4 linked regions of the Homo sapiens genome follow. The protein of the gene in region 3 purifies or fractionates together with the protein of the main gene of each other region. This does not show direct contact. Each region holds a gene or a part of one and is shown on either strand. Other genes may lie near its edges.

Region 1 (4,250 bases), on a different chromosome or scaffold from region 3:
CATGGTTCCACGGTGACCCCAGCCCCTATGCAAGTGGCACACCTGTTGGAAGTTTGGCACTGGTGGGTTATGTCAACCTAGTCCCAAATCTAAGGGTTTATTTACATCTTGTAGGGATCCAAAACGCATCTTTGTTAAGCATGGGCTCACACAGGGTGAGTTCTCTGGATGTAGTCACTACATCAGCGGGGGAATGCTGGGGGGCACACCCCCCATCTCACAGACTTGGAAGGAAGTGAACCACCTCATATACCAAGCCACCCCAGAGCAGAAAGTCGGATACAGAGACTACTCGAAAAACATACTCATTTTACAGATAAGGGCCCAAAGGGCAAGGAGCTCATTTCTAGAGCTAGCCATAGAATAGGCTTTCCAGCCTAGGCTTCTGGAAAGAAGCCTATATGTCTTCTCATTCCCACTGGCTTGGCATGCAGCAGCTCTCAGAACCACCCTCTTCACTCCTGGTCTGAAATAGCCTAGCACTTAACTCTCCTCCCTCTGGTGACCCCACTGTAGCCATGCGAGCCTCCAGCCTGCCAGCCCCACCTGCACTGGGCTTACATTCACACCCAACACTCACTTACCACAGTCCTCCAAACCTTCCACGTACCTTCACCCCAACTTGGACCAACTGAGGAGAGTGTGAAACACGAATAGGAATTTCTTTAAAAGCGCAGCTGTACTGCTCCAAAACACTCAGAATAGGCTCTTCACACTTTAGGTCATCTGTACCAATGGGCATGGTTTGTAAAGATCATGAAATCTTTTCAAAGCACTGGGACTTAAAAATATTTAATTCACGAATTAATTAAACTGGTCCCTTCTCAACATCACTGATTTGTAGCACCTTTGCCAACCCTTCCTGGTATGTCTGAGACCAAGCCAGTTTCCTAAGAACCCACTTTCCACACATGGTGTTCAGGGTCCTTCTTTGGCAACGGTACACTCACGCCCGTCAGGACACAGCCGACCGAACACAGCACGTTTCTCCTGCACAACCAGGGGACCTGAACAGATCAGCTTTCCTGCCCATTCCTCCAAGCGCCAAGGAGGCTCAGGGTTTCCTGGGCTAGTTAGAAAGTTAATTGCAAAGCTCTGAGCTCAGATCAGAGCAGCGAGGAGCAAGGGTGGTCTCGGCTCAAAAGTTCTCTAAGAAGACCCCACCCTGGCATCACCCAGCACCAGGACAGAGCCTGCACCTGCTTATGAGCAAGCTGGGAAGACAAAAGCCAAGAGGCAGAGGGCAGGGGGGTGCCCCAGGGCGGCCCCTCCTTCCTTCAGCAAAGTTCTCCTTTTGGTTCAGATCCCACCGGGTGTGTATGGGAGAAAAGACCAGCACAGGAGTCTCGTCTATTTTGTTCCAGGCAGAAGTCTCTTGCCGGTGCCTCACCTACCTGGTCAAGGAGGCTGCAAGCACAGGGCGGCACTGGCTGCGGGGTCCACTTACCAGCGGGGGCTGCGGCTGGGGGTGCTGCCCTGCTCCCGAGGGGGGTGGGTAATGCATGAGCAGATTGAAGGCGGAGTAGACGGTCTCTTTGTACATGCCGCTGGTGCACTCCGGGGCCTTCAGGCCTGGAAAAACCACAGCTGGGTCAGACACACCAGCCCTGGCAGCGGCTGGGACTGAAGGCTGTCTGCTCTTGAGAGAAAAAGAATTGCCAAGGGGTCCCCTGCAAGTTCCTGACTTGGGAAGGAACGGGCTGGGAGTATCGGCAGTGCCAAGTTTTAGGGGAAGGACCTGGAGGGCAGGCCTCCCCGAGGTGGCCCCTACTTGACCTCCCACCCCCCGCCCTCCAACCAAGAAACCTTGGCCAATTCTGTCTCCTGAAGGCGGCGGATTAGTCAGTCACCTGGGCAGGAGGGGAGGCGGGGATGGCGGGGGTCTGTTTACTCCTATAAAGGTCAGGGCACCGGAAGTGACTCGACCCGGCGGCGCCCGGGAAGCCCGCCCCCCACTCTCCACCCCTGGGTTCTGCCGCCTCCTGAGCTGCGGTGGGGGAGGCACCCGGCTCCCCGCGGTCCTTGGCGTCCCCGTCCCACCGAGGCCAGGGCCTGAGCGCGACGAAGGGAAGCCGGGCCGGGCAGAAACTCACCGTCCTCCAGGGGCTCTGGAAGTTTGTCCGGGAAGAGTCTCTGCGCAGCGTGTTCCCGCCCGAGAGCCTGGAGGGAGAACCGGAGGGGAGTGAGGGGCGGTGGGACCGCGGGGGTCGGGGCCGACGCCGGGGCAGGGACGCTCTGCGCGCTGGAGACCCCGAGGGCCGCGCGCAACTGGGGCGGCGCGGCGCGGCGACCGCGGGGGAGGAGCCGGCGCCGGCGGGGGCTCACCTCGGCCTCGCCGCGGGCCCCGGCGCCGGCCCCCGGGACCCCCGGGATCCCTGCGCCGCCGGCCGCGCCCTCGGACTCGTTCACGAGCGACGACTTGAGCTCGGCCAGGTCGCGCTCGGGACCGGCGGCGCTGTCGCGGCTCTTGTCGTCCTGCTCCTCGCCTTCATCCTGGAAGGCCAGCAGCTCGTCCGGCGCGCCGAGGTCGTCGCCGCCGCCCGCGCCGCCCCCGCCGGAGTCCAGCTGCGGCATGGTGCGCTCCGCCCGCCGGGGCGCGGGGCGCTGGGCGCCGGGAGTGCGGGGCGCGGAGCCGGCCCGGGGGGCGGCGAGCCCGGAGTCCGAACCTCCGAGCTCGGATCGCGGCGGGCGGAGCGCGGGCTGACTCCGCCTGGGCGGGCTGCAGGCGCGGGCTAGGGCGCGGGGCAGAGCGGCTCCGCGAGCTGGCGGGTCGGAACATCAAAGGCGCCGCCGGCCGAGTGCCGGGGGCGGGGCGGGCACTGGGGGCGGGCCGGGCCGGGGGCGGGACACAGGTCCGCCCCGCCTCTCCTCTCCCGGGAGAGGCCGGGACGCGCCCACTCGGCATAGCCTTAAAGGGCTCGCTCTTCCGGAGCGCACCCTGAGAGAGACGTCGGACAAGCCTGGGAATGATCACCCTTCTCCCGAAACGCAGAGACTCTAACGGGAACTCCTGACCCCGCTTACTCACCTACAACCAGATATTCCCCCTGCTTTCTGCGCCCAGGTTTCTCCTCCGGCTGTGGAGGGCGGGGGTCCCCTAGGCCCTTGGGACTTGGGCGTGGCTTACCATCGCAGCCGTGGTGTGAACTGTATCGTGCCCAGGCTCCAATGCGCCCTGTGCTTTGAACTGGGGGCTTCCTAGGGCTTGAGGCTGCTTGAGGCTGTGCTCGTACCCCAGGGAACCGGCAGCGTTGGAACTCCGCGGCGCTGTTGCGGCTCTTGCCCCATCCTCCATCCCTGTGCCAATCAGGGACTTCCTTCTAGGCCGCCTGCATACAGTGCGAACATAAGTATACCCCCCTTCGCACATTTATTGAGCTCCTGTTGCGTGCAGAGCTTATACATCACACATCTGTGACGGGCCCCTCAGTCAGGCGACGGCTCCGAGCCGCGAACACAGCCAAGAGCACCGGACCTCAGCCGATCCTCCAAGTCCCAGCCCCTATGACTCTCCCAACTCGGTTCCGTGACTAGAACCTGCAGCCCGGAGACTCGGAACTTTGGGCAGCCACGTGGGCGCGGGATTCCGACATGGGTCGCTCGTCCACAGCAACTCAACCCTAGAAGTCGCATTTAGGGAGCCCATGACTCTGAAGTTGACCCTGGCCTGACTAACCCTCTAACCCTCGCTCGATCCAGGCTGAAACATCTAGATTTGCGGAGCGCGGGAAAGTGCCTGGATTCCAGCGCATCTGTATGGCACCCGGGTCTGCGTCCACGCGGGCCTCCACGGCGCGCTTGGCCTGGCTCAGCCCCTGCATCTACAAAAGACGCCGGTCCTTTGGATCGCGATGCAGTCAACAGCAGCTCCCCTAGCAGGTTTCTGTGCTGGGTTCACTGTAGACGCTCACGCCTCTTCTGAGAGCAGTTGGGATAGAGGGTATTTGGGGGAGGGCCGGGTATTGGACGCCTCTCCCTCTGAGGGCCCCACAGGACCCCTGGCAGCGGTGCAAAGCCGGGCCGGAAGACAGCCGTGCCTCCCTCCGGGTCCAGGCCCAGCGTGGCTGGCTGTGGATCAAAGAGCTAGGCCATGCTTCCCTGTGTTCAGATCCTATCTGTGCCCGCCCAGCCGGGTGTCTCGGACACCAGCCCCCACACCCCCCTCCCCCGCCACCTCCGGGCTAGGGTGCCCACTTTTCCTCCTTTCCCCAGGCTGGGGCTGGGGGGTGGCATGGGCACGAGTGCTCAGC
Region 2 (4,176 bases), on a different chromosome or scaffold from region 3:
CGGCGGAGGGGGATGCGCGCGGAGAGGACCAGCGCGCACCGCCCCGGCCCGCCCCTCAAATCCTCCTTCCTTCTCTCTCGCACTCGGAGACGGTCCCTGGGAGATCCGGGAGGGGGCGCAGCTCGCCGTCCTCGCCGGCAAGTGCCGTCGCAACCTCCCTCTGCCGCCACCCCCACCCCGAGAAGCGCACAAAGAGCGGCCGGGCAGGGAGCGCTCACCTCCCGTCGGGGCGGGGCCGCGGGCGGGGCCGGCGCGCGCTCCGCAGCGCCCGCCTTAAAGGGCCCGCCCGCTCCTCGCGCGCACTGCGCATGCTCGGCCGCGGGGCACGGAGGGGAGGGATGGGAACAGCGGGCGCGCACGCCCGCGCCGCCCGCTGGCGCTGTGGCCTGCGTCCCCGCGGTGGCGGCGCGGCGCTCGTGCGCGTGTCAGAACCCGCAGGGTCTCGGCCCGGGCGCCGGGCGTGTGCTGGACACTGGTGCCATGCATTCCAGAGGTCGCCAGCGGCCGGGCGGGCCGAGCTCGCGCGGCAGCCAGCTTTTAGCTTTCCCATCCTCAGTTTCAGGGCCAGTTGGGCGAAGTGCTGCCCAAGGAGACAGAAATGCAGGCGCGGGCGCGCGCGCGCGCGGTTGCCAGTGTGGGCGGGCGTGTGCTTTTGTGTCTCGTGCGCTCCCGCGCAGGTGGACAACCCGCGCCGGGAGTCACTCTGCCCGTGCGCCCCAAGACCTGGAGTCCCGTTTTCCGTGTCGGAGGGCTCGGGTCGCCCTTTTGGGCGGACTACAGACTCTTCTCACAGAGGAAGCTTTGGCTCCACGGATGGTTTATTTGGAGCCACTAACGGGACTTCCTGAGGACCGCTCTTTTAGAGCCCGGCTCCAGGCATCAGAGTTGGGCGCGTTTTCTTTTCTCAGTCAGGCGAGGGAGGAGACTTAGGGACAATGATTGTCCTCGGCTGATAGGTACATCCAAGTGTCCCGAGCCTGCCAGTCCCGCATTAGACAACAAAGAGAGGCGTTAGCGGCGGCGGGGGAGGGGCGCGGCCGGGAGGAGGACGGGGCGGGCTGCGGCGAGCGCGGGGGTGGGGGGTGGCGCTCTCTCTCCGCTCGCTCAACCCGCGGCCTCCTCCCGCCCCCGGCCTGGCGCGCGCCAATCGCCTCCCCCAGCGATAGTGTCAGTAGCATTGTGGTGTCAGCTCCCGCCTGTGACGTTGCGCCTCCCTCGTCCCCCTCCGGAGTCGTCTGGCTGCAGAGGCTCAGTCAAGAGGCGGGGAGGAGAGGAGGAAAAAGCGCTGAGTGAGGGCGGGCGGGCGGGCGGGAGGGAGGGAGTGGAGGAGCCGGGGAGGGGCTCCTTAAAGAAACGCTTCTGTCGCTCGCCTGCTCGCTTTTCGCTCGGCATTGCGGCCAGCCAGCCGGGCACTCGGGGGGCACGCGCGGCCACCGCTAGAGCTCTGCCCCCACCCCACCCGCCAGCAGGTCTGGGGTGGGGACCCAGGTGGGGGCTCCTGCAGCCACTGCCCGGTGCGGACCGCACGGAGCGACCCACTCCTCCCAGCACCGAGGAAGAAGCAACGGAGCCCTCAGCAGGCGACCGGCCTCCCCGCCCCTGACCACCCGCTTCCCGGCTGCCTTTGTGGCCGCAGCTTCTCGCCGCCGAGCCGAGGGCCGGCGGGGGCGCGGCGCGCACGGCCGAGCGATGCCCAGCTCGCTGTTCGCAGACCTGGAGCGCAACGGCAGCGGCGGCGGCGGCGGCGGCAGCAGCGGAGGGGGAGAGACCCTGGATGACCAAAGAGCCCTGCAGCTCGCGCTCGACCAGCTCTCCCTGCTGGGGCTGGACAGTGACGAGGGCGCCTCTCTGTACGACAGCGAGCCGCGCAAGAAGAGCGTGAACATGACCGAGTGCGTGCCAGTACCCAGTTCTGAGCATGTCGCCGAGATCGTGGGGCGGCAAGGTAGGTCGAGGAGGGATGGGGAGGTGGGTGGGGGTGGTGTAGGGTCTCAGGCCACTGCCTCGAGGGGAAGGCGTGTTCAGTATCGGGATCCGCGGCGTGGGGTGCCTTGGGGAGAGAGGAAGAGCCGCGCGATGGGCCGGCGCCCCAGACAAAGAAAGTGCAGGCAGGCTGTCTCCCGGAGCCGCGCCGCTGCCCTGGCGGGATGCACTTTCTTCTGCTAAAATCACTGCCTTCTCCCCTAACGCCCCCCAACCAGCCCACCTCCAGAAAGACAATTTAAATGTAAGATGCTTGGGGGAGGGGGCCTTTGATCAGTCCTTTGGGAGGAGGAAGGAGGAGGAGTGAGCATAGGATGGGAGGAGGATTCTGGATTTCTGCAAAGCGGAATGGAGCCCAGAGGAGGAACAATGGGTCCCGGGACTCACACCCCACCCCCTACCCCCAGTCGACCAGCGCTGAGGCATCGCGACTTCAGCTGCCTTCCCCGAGCCCCTTCCCCGTGTCTTCAGAGCTGACGGCGCGCCCAGCTGGATCCCAGCGGCATCTCCCCAGATGACTTTTCTGGGATTCTCGGGTTTGGTTCGGGACGACTGCAGTCACTGGGGGAGGGCCAGGCAGCCAATGGGCTGTTCCTCGAGCGCCTCGCGGGTGGGATCCGCTGCCCAGCCCGTGGCGCGGCCCGAGGTCAGTGAGGGAGACGCCCCCTTTCCGCCCATCTCTTGTCCTGCCGTCTCGCTGTCCTGGACGCGGGCTGTCCCCGGTCCCCGCGGTTACCCCAGGATAATGGGCGTGTCTGTCTCTCTCTCCCACTCCCTCCTCCGCACCCTGGTTCGTAGGTTGTAAAATCAAAGCGCTGCGGGCGAAGACCAATACTTACATCAAGACCCCAGTTCGCGGGGAGGAGCCTGTCTTTGTTGTGACGGGCAGGAAGGAGGATGTGGCCATGGCTCGGAGGGAGATCATCTCTGCTGCCGAGCACTTCTCCATGATCCGCGCCTCCCGGAATAAGAACACGGCACTCAACGGCGCGGTGCCTGGGCCGCCCAACCTGCCCGGGCAGACCACCATCCAAGTGCGGGTACCCTACCGCGTGGTGGGGCTCGTGGTGGGGCCCAAAGGCGCCACAATCAAGCGCATCCAGCAGCAGACGCACACGTACATCGTGACGCCCAGCCGGGATAAGGAGCCGGTGTTCGAGGTGACCGGCATGCCAGAGAACGTGGATCGCGCTCGAGAGGAGATTGAGGCGCACATTGCTCTGCGTACCGGCGGCATCATTGAGCTCACAGACGAGAACGACTTCCACGCCAACGGCACCGATGTGGGCTTCGATCTGCATCATGGGTCCGGCGGGTCCGGCCCAGGCAGCCTCTGGAGCAAGCCCACCCCCAGCATCACGCCCACCCCCGGCCGCAAGCCTTTCTCTAGCTACCGCAACGACAGCTCCAGCTCGCTTGGCAGTGCTTCCACAGACTCTTATTTCGGCGGCGGGACCAGCAGCAGCGCAGCGGCTACCCAGCGCCTGGCGGACTACAGCCCCCCTAGCCCCGCCCTGAGCTTTGCGCACAACGGAAACAATAACAATAACGGCAATGGGTACACCTACACAGCGGGGGGAGAAGCCTCAGTGCCATCCCCCGACGGCTGCCCCGAGCTGCAGCCCACTTTTGACCCGGCTCCCGCTCCCCCACCTGGGGCACCACTTATCTGGGCCCAGTTCGAGCGGTCCCCGGGAGGCGGACCTGCAGCTCCGGTATCTTCTTCCTGCTCTTCTTCTGCATCTTCGTCTGCTTCTTCCTCCTCCGTGGTCTTCCCCGGGGGTGGCGCCAGTGCGCCCTCCAACGCCAACCTGGGGCTATTGGTGCACCGCCGGCTGCACCCTGGCACCAGCTGCCCGCGCCTGTCTCCACCCTTGCACATGGCCCCGGGGGCGGGAGAGCACCACCTGGCTCGCCGGGTGCGCAGCGACCCGGGTGGAGGAGGCCTGGCCTACGCCGCTTATGCCAACGGGCTGGGGGCACAGCTGCCTGGCTTGCAGCCGTCGGACACGTCGGGCTCCTCCTCTTCGTCCAGCTCCTCCTCCAGCTCTTCATCCTCTTCCTCCGGGCTTCGGCGTAAAGGCAGCCGCGACTGCTCCGTGTGCTTCGAGAGCGAAGTGATTGCCGCGCTGGTGCCCTGTGGCCACAACCTCTTCTGCATGGAGTGCGCCAATCGCATCTGTGAGAAGAGCG
Region 3 (3,500 bases):
CTAGGGGTCCCCCAGATGGGCCTTGGGAACCAGAGCCCAAGGTCATTCTTCAGGAAGCCCTCCTGGGGTTGTCTCGAGCTGGAACTGACCTCTTCCCTGCTGTCCTCCAGGCACCTCGGAACTGAACCCATTCTCCGACCCCCGCCAGTTTGACCGCTCCTTCCCCACGCTGCCAACCCTCACGGAGAGCCGCTTCCCAGACCCCAGGATGCATTATCCCGGGGCCATGTCAGCTGCCTTCCCCTACAGCGCCACGCCCTCGGGCACGAGCATCAGCAGCCTCAGCGTGGCGGGCATGCCGGCCACCAGCCGCTTCCACCATACCTACCTCCCGCCACCCTACCCGGGGGCCCCGCAGAACCAGAGCGGGCCCTTCCAGGCCAACCCGTCCCCCTACCACCTCTACTACGGGACATCCTCTGGCTCCTACCAGTTCTCCATGGTGGCCGGCAGCAGCAGTGGGGGCGACCGCTCACCTACCCGCATGCTGGCCTCTTGCACCAGCAGCGCTGCCTCTGTCGCCGCCGGCAACCTCATGAACCCCAGCCTGGGCGGCCAGAGTGATGGCGTGGAGGCCGACGGCAGCCACAGCAACTCACCCACGGCCCTGAGCACGCCAGGCCGCATGGATGAGGCCGTGTGGCGGCCCTACTGACCGCCCTGGTGGACTCCTCCCGCTGGAGGCGGGGACCCTAACAACCTTCAAGACCAGTGATGGGCCGGCTCCGAGGCTCCGGGCGGGAATGGGACCTGCGCTCCAGGGTGGTCTCGGTCCCAGGGTGGTCCCAGCTGGTGGGAGCCTCTGGCTGCATCTGTGCAGCCACATCCTTGTACAGAGGCATAGGTTACCACCCCCACCCCGGCCCGGGATACTGCCCCCGGCCCAGATCCTGGCCGTCTCATCCCATACTTCTGTGGGGAATCAGCCTCCTGCCACCCCCCCGGAAGGACCTCACTGTCTCCAGCTATGCCCAGTGCTGCATGGGACCCATGTCTCCTGGGACAGAGGCCATCTCTCTTCCAGAGAGAGGCAGCATTGGCCCACAGGATAAGCCTCAGGCCCTGGGAAACCTCCCGACCCCTGCACCTTCGTTGGAGCCCCTGCATCCCCTGGGTCCAGCCCCCTCTGCATTTACACAGATTTGAGTCAGAACTGGAAAGTGTCCCCCACCCCCACCACCCTCGAGCGGGGTTCCCCTCATTGTACAGATGGGGCAGGACCCAGCACGCTGCTGGCAGAGATGGTTTGAGAACACATCCAAGCCAGTCCCCCCAGCCCAGCTTCCCCTCCGTTCCTAACTGTTGGCTTTCCCCCAGCCGCACGGGTCCCAGGCCCCAGAGAAGATGAGTCTATGGCATCAGGTTCTTAAACCCAGGAAAGCACCTACAGACCGGCTCCTCCATGCACTTTACCAGCTCAACGCATCCACTCTCTGTTCTCTTGGCAGGGCGGGGGAGGGGGGATAGGAGGTCCCCTTTCCCCTAGGTGGTCTCATAATTCCATTTGTGGAGAGAACAGGAGGGCCAGATAGATAGGTCCTAGCAGAAGGCATTGAGGTGAGGGATCATTTTGGGTCAGACATCAATGTCCCTGTCCCCCCTGGGTCCAGCCAAGCTGTGCCCCATCCCCCAAGCCTCCTGGGAGGATCCAGCCAAATCTTGCGACTCCTGGCACACACCTGTCTGTAACCTGTTTTGTGCTCTGAAAGCAAATAGTCCTGAGCAAAAAAAAAAAAAAAACAAAAAAACAAAAAAAAAACAAAACAGTTTTTAAAACTGATTTTAGAAAAAGAAGCTTAATCTAACGTTTTCAAACACAAGGTCTCTTACAGGTATAGTTCCGTGATTATGATAGCTCTGTGATTATAAGCAACATCCCCGCCCCCTCTCCCCCCCGCGGACCCCCAGCTGCCTCCTGAGGGTGTGGGGTTATTAGGGTCTCAATACTTTCTCAAGGGGCTACACTCCCCATCAGGCAGCATCCCACCAGCCTGCACCACAGGCTCCCCTGGGAGGACGAGGGAAACGCTGATGAGACGCTGGGCATCTCTCCTCTGTGGCTCTAGGACATCTGTCCAGGAGGCTGGGCGGAGGTGGGCAGGATGTGAGAGGTGGGGAGTACTGGCTGTGCGTGGCAGGACAGAAGCACTGTAAAGGGCTCTCCAGCCGCAGCTCAGCTGCACTGCGTTCCGAGGTGAAGTCTTGCCCCTGAATTTTGCAAAATGGGAAAGTGGGCGCTTGCCCAAGGGCCAGGCTGCATGGATTCTCACATCAGAGTTCTCTGGCCCTAGAAAGGCTTAGAAAAGGCGTAAGGGAACTCATAAAGGCTAGCAGCATGCGGTATTTTAACTTTCTGCCTCGGCCTCTGTGGATGCAGAAATCTGCCCTACAAAATGCTCTTCATTGGTTGTCTCTGTGAGAGCACTGTCCCCACCCAACCTGTCACAACGGCCAGAACCATACACCAGAGACACACTGGCAGGTTAGGCAGTCCTTCTGGTGATCCTATTCCATTCCCTCCTGCTGCGGTTTCTCTTGGCCTGTCCTCACTGGAAAAACAGTCTCCATCTCCTCAAAATAGTTGCTGACTCCCTGCACCCAAGGGGCCTCTCCATGCCTTCTTAGGAAGCAGCTATGAATCCATTGTCCTTGTAGTTTCTTCCCTCCTGTTCTCTGGTTATAGCTGGTCCCAGGTCAGCGTGGGAGGCACCTTTGGGTTCCCAGTGCCCAGCACTTTGTAGTCTCATCCCAGATTACTAACCCTTCCTGATCCTGGAGAGGCAGGGATAGTAAATAAATTGCTCTTCCTACCCCATCCCCCATCCCCTGACAAAAAGTGACGGCAGCCGTACTGAGTCTGTAAGGCCCAAAGTGGGTACAGACAGCCTGGGCTGGTAAAAGTAGGTCCTTATTTACAAGGCTGCGTTAAAGTTGTACTAGGCAAACACACTGATGTAGGAAGCACGAGGAAAGGAAGACGTTTTGATATAGTGTTACTGTGAGCCTGTCAGTAGTGGGTACCAATCTTTTGTGACATATTGTCATGCTGAGGTGTGACACCTGCTGCACTCATCTGATGTAAAACCATCCCAGAGCTGGCGAGAGGATGGAGCTGGGTGGAAACTGCTTTGCACTATCGTTTGCTTGGTGTTTGTTTTTAACGCACAACTTGCTTGTACAGTAAACTGTCTTCTGTACTATTTAACTGTAAAATGGAATTTTGACTGATTTGTTACAATAATATAACTCTGAGATGTGTGGAAGGAGTCCAGTGCCCGGTTTCTAGGGCTATGCATGGAGGTGGGGTGGGGTGGGGGAGAGGATGGAGACCTCCTGCTGTTGCCCAGGAGGAACAGGAACAGAGACACCCAGCACCTTCATCTCCTTGCTTCCAACTTCTTCAGGAATGGCCGCAGAGACCACCCTGGCCACAGGACAGCCGGTGAGGCCTGCTCCTGTATGGCTGGGACCCCAGGAGAGCATCAAATAGGTCTTCAAAG
Region 4 (3,500 bases), on a different chromosome or scaffold from region 3:
ACTGATGAATAAAGGAACAACACATAATGTCAATAAGTAGGTTACTGATAAAAGTTCACAGATGCTCACTTACACACATGGATGTAACAAAGGAGGAAGACACTTTTTAAAAAGCAACATATTCATGCCTATAAGATGAAAGATCTAAGGATAATTTAGTGACTATATAATAACTGTTACCACTTATTTGTAAAGAAATACGGAGATTCCATTCTGGACGAATTTCATTCTACCTCTGCGCAAATGGTTTTGAAATATCCCACTTTTCTCTTCCTTTCTTTCCTCTCTATTTTAGACTATACTTTCTTCTACTTTCTAATACCTTCCCACATCCACTTCAACTGGGATTAAAAAAACATATTACAGTCTAGCATAATGCCTGCCACATAAGTGTTTAAGAAATGGTGGCAAAATAAATGGTTATGGCAGGAAAGATTATGGAAGGAAGTACTGAGGCAAGGAAGGAAAGGACCATTCCAATTCAAGCTCTGTATAAACACTATGAAAATATAAGCTAAAATTATCTGGGATGCTTTAAGTACAGCACATGCAACAAATTAAAGGCCCAGAATAAGTTCTTCTAACTCAAATATTAATGAGAGCTTATACTTCCTGGAGATCTTTAAGAGATTCTGTTGAAGATTCACTGGGTATTGAGGTCCCATCTTTATTAATTTCTGCAAACTGTATCTCAGGGTGTGATTTCACATTTATATTGTACTCCATGAGAGGTGGACTTAGTTCTTCTTCCTCATTCTGTAACTCTTCTATTTCAATACCTAAACATAAAAGACAAAATTCTCAAAATCTAGATGAAAGCAATTTCAGCTTCTTATCAATGTTATAATGTTTGCCCAAAAAAGCAACATTCACAAAACAGAAATAAAATATATCTTACTCTTTTCAATTACTCGATGAAAATGTGATGTTCATTTATCAGTTACCAAATAATATGTACAAACACCAGCCTGGAACTAATCAGTGTGAACCTGAGTGCTATGTTACCTACTGGAATCTTAGGTAGACTCTAGATATTAGATACTCTAGAACATAAGTAGACTCTAAATACTAACTTTTTGCATGTCCTGACCTTGATCCTATTAATAATGCAACTAGTATTATTTTAGCACATATATCTGAAATATAAAGAAAAAGAAGACAAAAGATCTATTTTTTCTGTTTTCTTTTTCATAAGAGGGGTGTGAGCCCCCTATTATGTGACCTTTTCTTTGAGACTTTGCTCCTTGATATTGCCCCAGAGACTCAGTCTCAAAACTTGTGGACTTTGTCTGACTGGTCTCCAGAGAGTCCAGCATTTTATCCCAAACAAATCTGTGGTGGTGTTTTTTTTAAGTATAATTTTAATTGAATAATATTAATTACACTTAAAAAAAATAGCACAAAAATGGAAATTAAACAATTACAACTTATCACCTGGCAAAAAAAGTATATAGCTATAAACAATAGACAGACTAAATAAAGTTATACACGCTAAACACCAAACAGAGAAAGCAGGAAGGTATTTTTGCCTGCTGAAGTTTTTGTGAGTAAAACGTTAGAACATCATCCTTGGGAAAACCCTGAAGCACATGCACTAAGCCAAAGGCAGAATAAAGCTCATTCTCGATTCAGCCAGACCAGTGGTGATTTGATCACATCATTTTCCAAGTTCTTTTTTTTTGAGACTGAATCTCGCTCTGTCGCCCAGGCTGGAATGCAGTGGCGTGATCTTGGCTCACTGCAACCTCTGCCTTCCATGTTCAAGCAATTTTCCTGCCTCAGCCTCTTGAGTAGCTGGGACTACAGGCACCCGCCACCACACCTGGCTAATTTTTGTATTTTTAGTAGAGACGGGGTTTCACCATGTTGGCCAAGATGGTCTCGATCTCCTGACCTTGTGATCCACCTGCCTCAGCCTCCCAAAGTACAGGGATTATAGGCGTGAGCCACTGCGCCTGGCCCAAGTTCTTCACAATTATAGTTTATCATTTAGTTTATCTGAACAAATAAAAATTTCATAGGTATCCCTTGTTAAAAAGTCATTTACACATTTTATTTCTAAATATACTTACGCTGACTGCCTGTTATTGACTGTAGAGCAATTCCTATAATACATAAAGAAAAATTTTAGATGTACAATTGCAAACGCAACAAATGAATGTCTGGCTAGGATTAAGGCAGAATATTTTTATATTGCACCAATTTATTCTGTAAGTAACTGGAAAAATAACCAGCTTTGCTCATCAATCCAGTTTAGACAAGGCACAATCTTTAGATTATCACATAAAGGTTATAAACCCATGATTAGAGAAAAAAAAGTAAACAAAAATGTGGTATCACAGATAAAGCCTAGAACACAAGCACTTTAAACCAAGCAACGAATATTTATGTTTACCATCTAAGGCCATGAAATAATAGTTAATTACACAGCAAACCTCCACTGAAAGTTGGGACCTATTTTTAGCAATCTGATTTATCTGATCATCACTTGCTCTCCTTGCCCATTAATATTTATTGAGCACCTACAATGTACATCAGGCTGTGTTAAGCTCTAGAGATTGAATGGTGAAGAAAAAAAAAGACAATCTTCATGGAGATTTAGTGGGATGATGGATGTTAATCAAATTATCAGATATCCAAATAAAAAGCAACTAGAATAGCTGAGGAAAGAAATATAAGATGGTAAGAAAGCCTCTAGTAAAGGGACTTGACCAATAAGCTCTTCAGTGTACTTGAGTAAGAACTGCTTAAAATGCTTTGAATTGAATGGGTGCTCAAAACTCTTTCTCAAATACTCTATTCTCATGAATTATTTAAAATCCTAATAGAGTAAATGTATTTTTTAAAACCCTAATTTATAAGTCAAAAATTCTTGCCTGACTTTCTTATATATCAAACTCAGTGTCCTCCTCTTTCATTCTTAGATTATGCAAGAAAACAAAGGTATTCCAGAGCCTTAGTAAATACCAGGACTGAAATTGGGCACATCAATTATCTCTGAAGAAAATCTGGACCAGTTCACTAGAAACTTTTACAGTTGTATGTTTATATAGCATCAGTGTGGTTATCAGTTGTTCATTAGGCTGTAAATAACTTGAGACCAGGAAGTCATCCTGAATAGCACAGCAGGGTTTCAGAGATGTTGTCATGCCTTGAACTCTGCTTTCCAAAAGAATAGCTGAGAAGGTATCCTGAGATGTGGGAAAGGAGGTCTGAAGTCTTTTCCGTATCAATAGACAAGTTTGGGAGTGGCCAATACAAACACTTGCATGAATGTTACCTGATTTTTAAAATTATCTACAGCCAATGAATAGCTGCTAAAATTGTAAACTAAACAAGATTCTGCTAGAAAGTAGAAGAAACATACATCCACACTGTGTCTAAACGAACATCTTTGAAACCACACAGTACTTACATGTCATGGTTTTAAACTTTATTAATTTTGGAGAATAAAACTCCACTTAAAGTGATAAAACTGTACTCAAAAGTCTTCAACAATT

What was found. The genes of interacting proteins can lie anywhere in the genome.
Region 1: the proteins of RUNX3 (region 3) and TCF7 purify together in Homo sapiens (co-immunoprecipitation; one study listed by IntAct). This does not show direct contact.
Region 2: the proteins of RUNX3 (region 3) and MEX3B purify together in Homo sapiens (affinity purification with western blotting, with the first as the bait; one study listed by BioGRID). This does not show direct contact.
Region 4: the proteins of RUNX3 (region 3) and DZIP3 purify together in Homo sapiens (affinity purification with western blotting, with the first as the bait; one study listed by BioGRID). This does not show direct contact.

Annotation. Positions count from the first base shown.
Region 1 is NC_000005.10:134,113,231-134,117,480, reverse strand, and holds the start of TCF7 (transcription factor 7), read right to left. Parts: upstream 2,801-4,250; 5' UTR 2,575-2,800; coding exon 2,326-2,574; intron 2,161-2,325; coding exon 2,094-2,160; intron 1,869-2,093; exon of another isoform or gene 1,573-1,868; coding exon 1,448-1,572; coding exon of another isoform or gene 1,395-1,447; intron 1-1,394. UniProt on the Homo sapiens protein: Transcriptional activator involved in T-cell lymphocyte differentiation. Necessary for the survival of CD4(+) CD8(+) immature thymocytes. Isoforms lacking the N-terminal CTNNB1 binding domain cannot fulfill this role.
Region 2 is NC_000015.10:82,043,219-82,047,394, reverse strand, and holds the start of MEX3B (RNA-binding protein MEX3B), read left to right. Parts: upstream 1-1,376; 5' UTR 1,377-1,689; coding exon 1,690-1,945; intron 1,946-2,781; coding exon 2,782-4,176.
Region 3 is NC_000001.11:24,899,277-24,902,776, reverse strand, and holds the end of RUNX3 (runt-related transcription factor 3), read left to right. Parts: intron 1-110; coding exon 111-655; 3' UTR 656-3,266; downstream 3,267-3,500. UniProt on the Homo sapiens protein: Forms the heterodimeric complex core-binding factor (CBF) with CBFB.
Region 4 is NC_000003.12:108,645,222-108,648,721, reverse strand, and holds part of DZIP3 (E3 ubiquitin-protein ligase DZIP3), read right to left. Parts: intron 2,106-3,500; coding exon 2,073-2,105; intron 780-2,072; coding exon 610-779; coding exon of another isoform or gene 604-609; exon of another isoform or gene 1-603. UniProt on the Homo sapiens protein: E3 Ubiquitin ligase proteins mediate ubiquitination and subsequent proteasomal degradation of target proteins.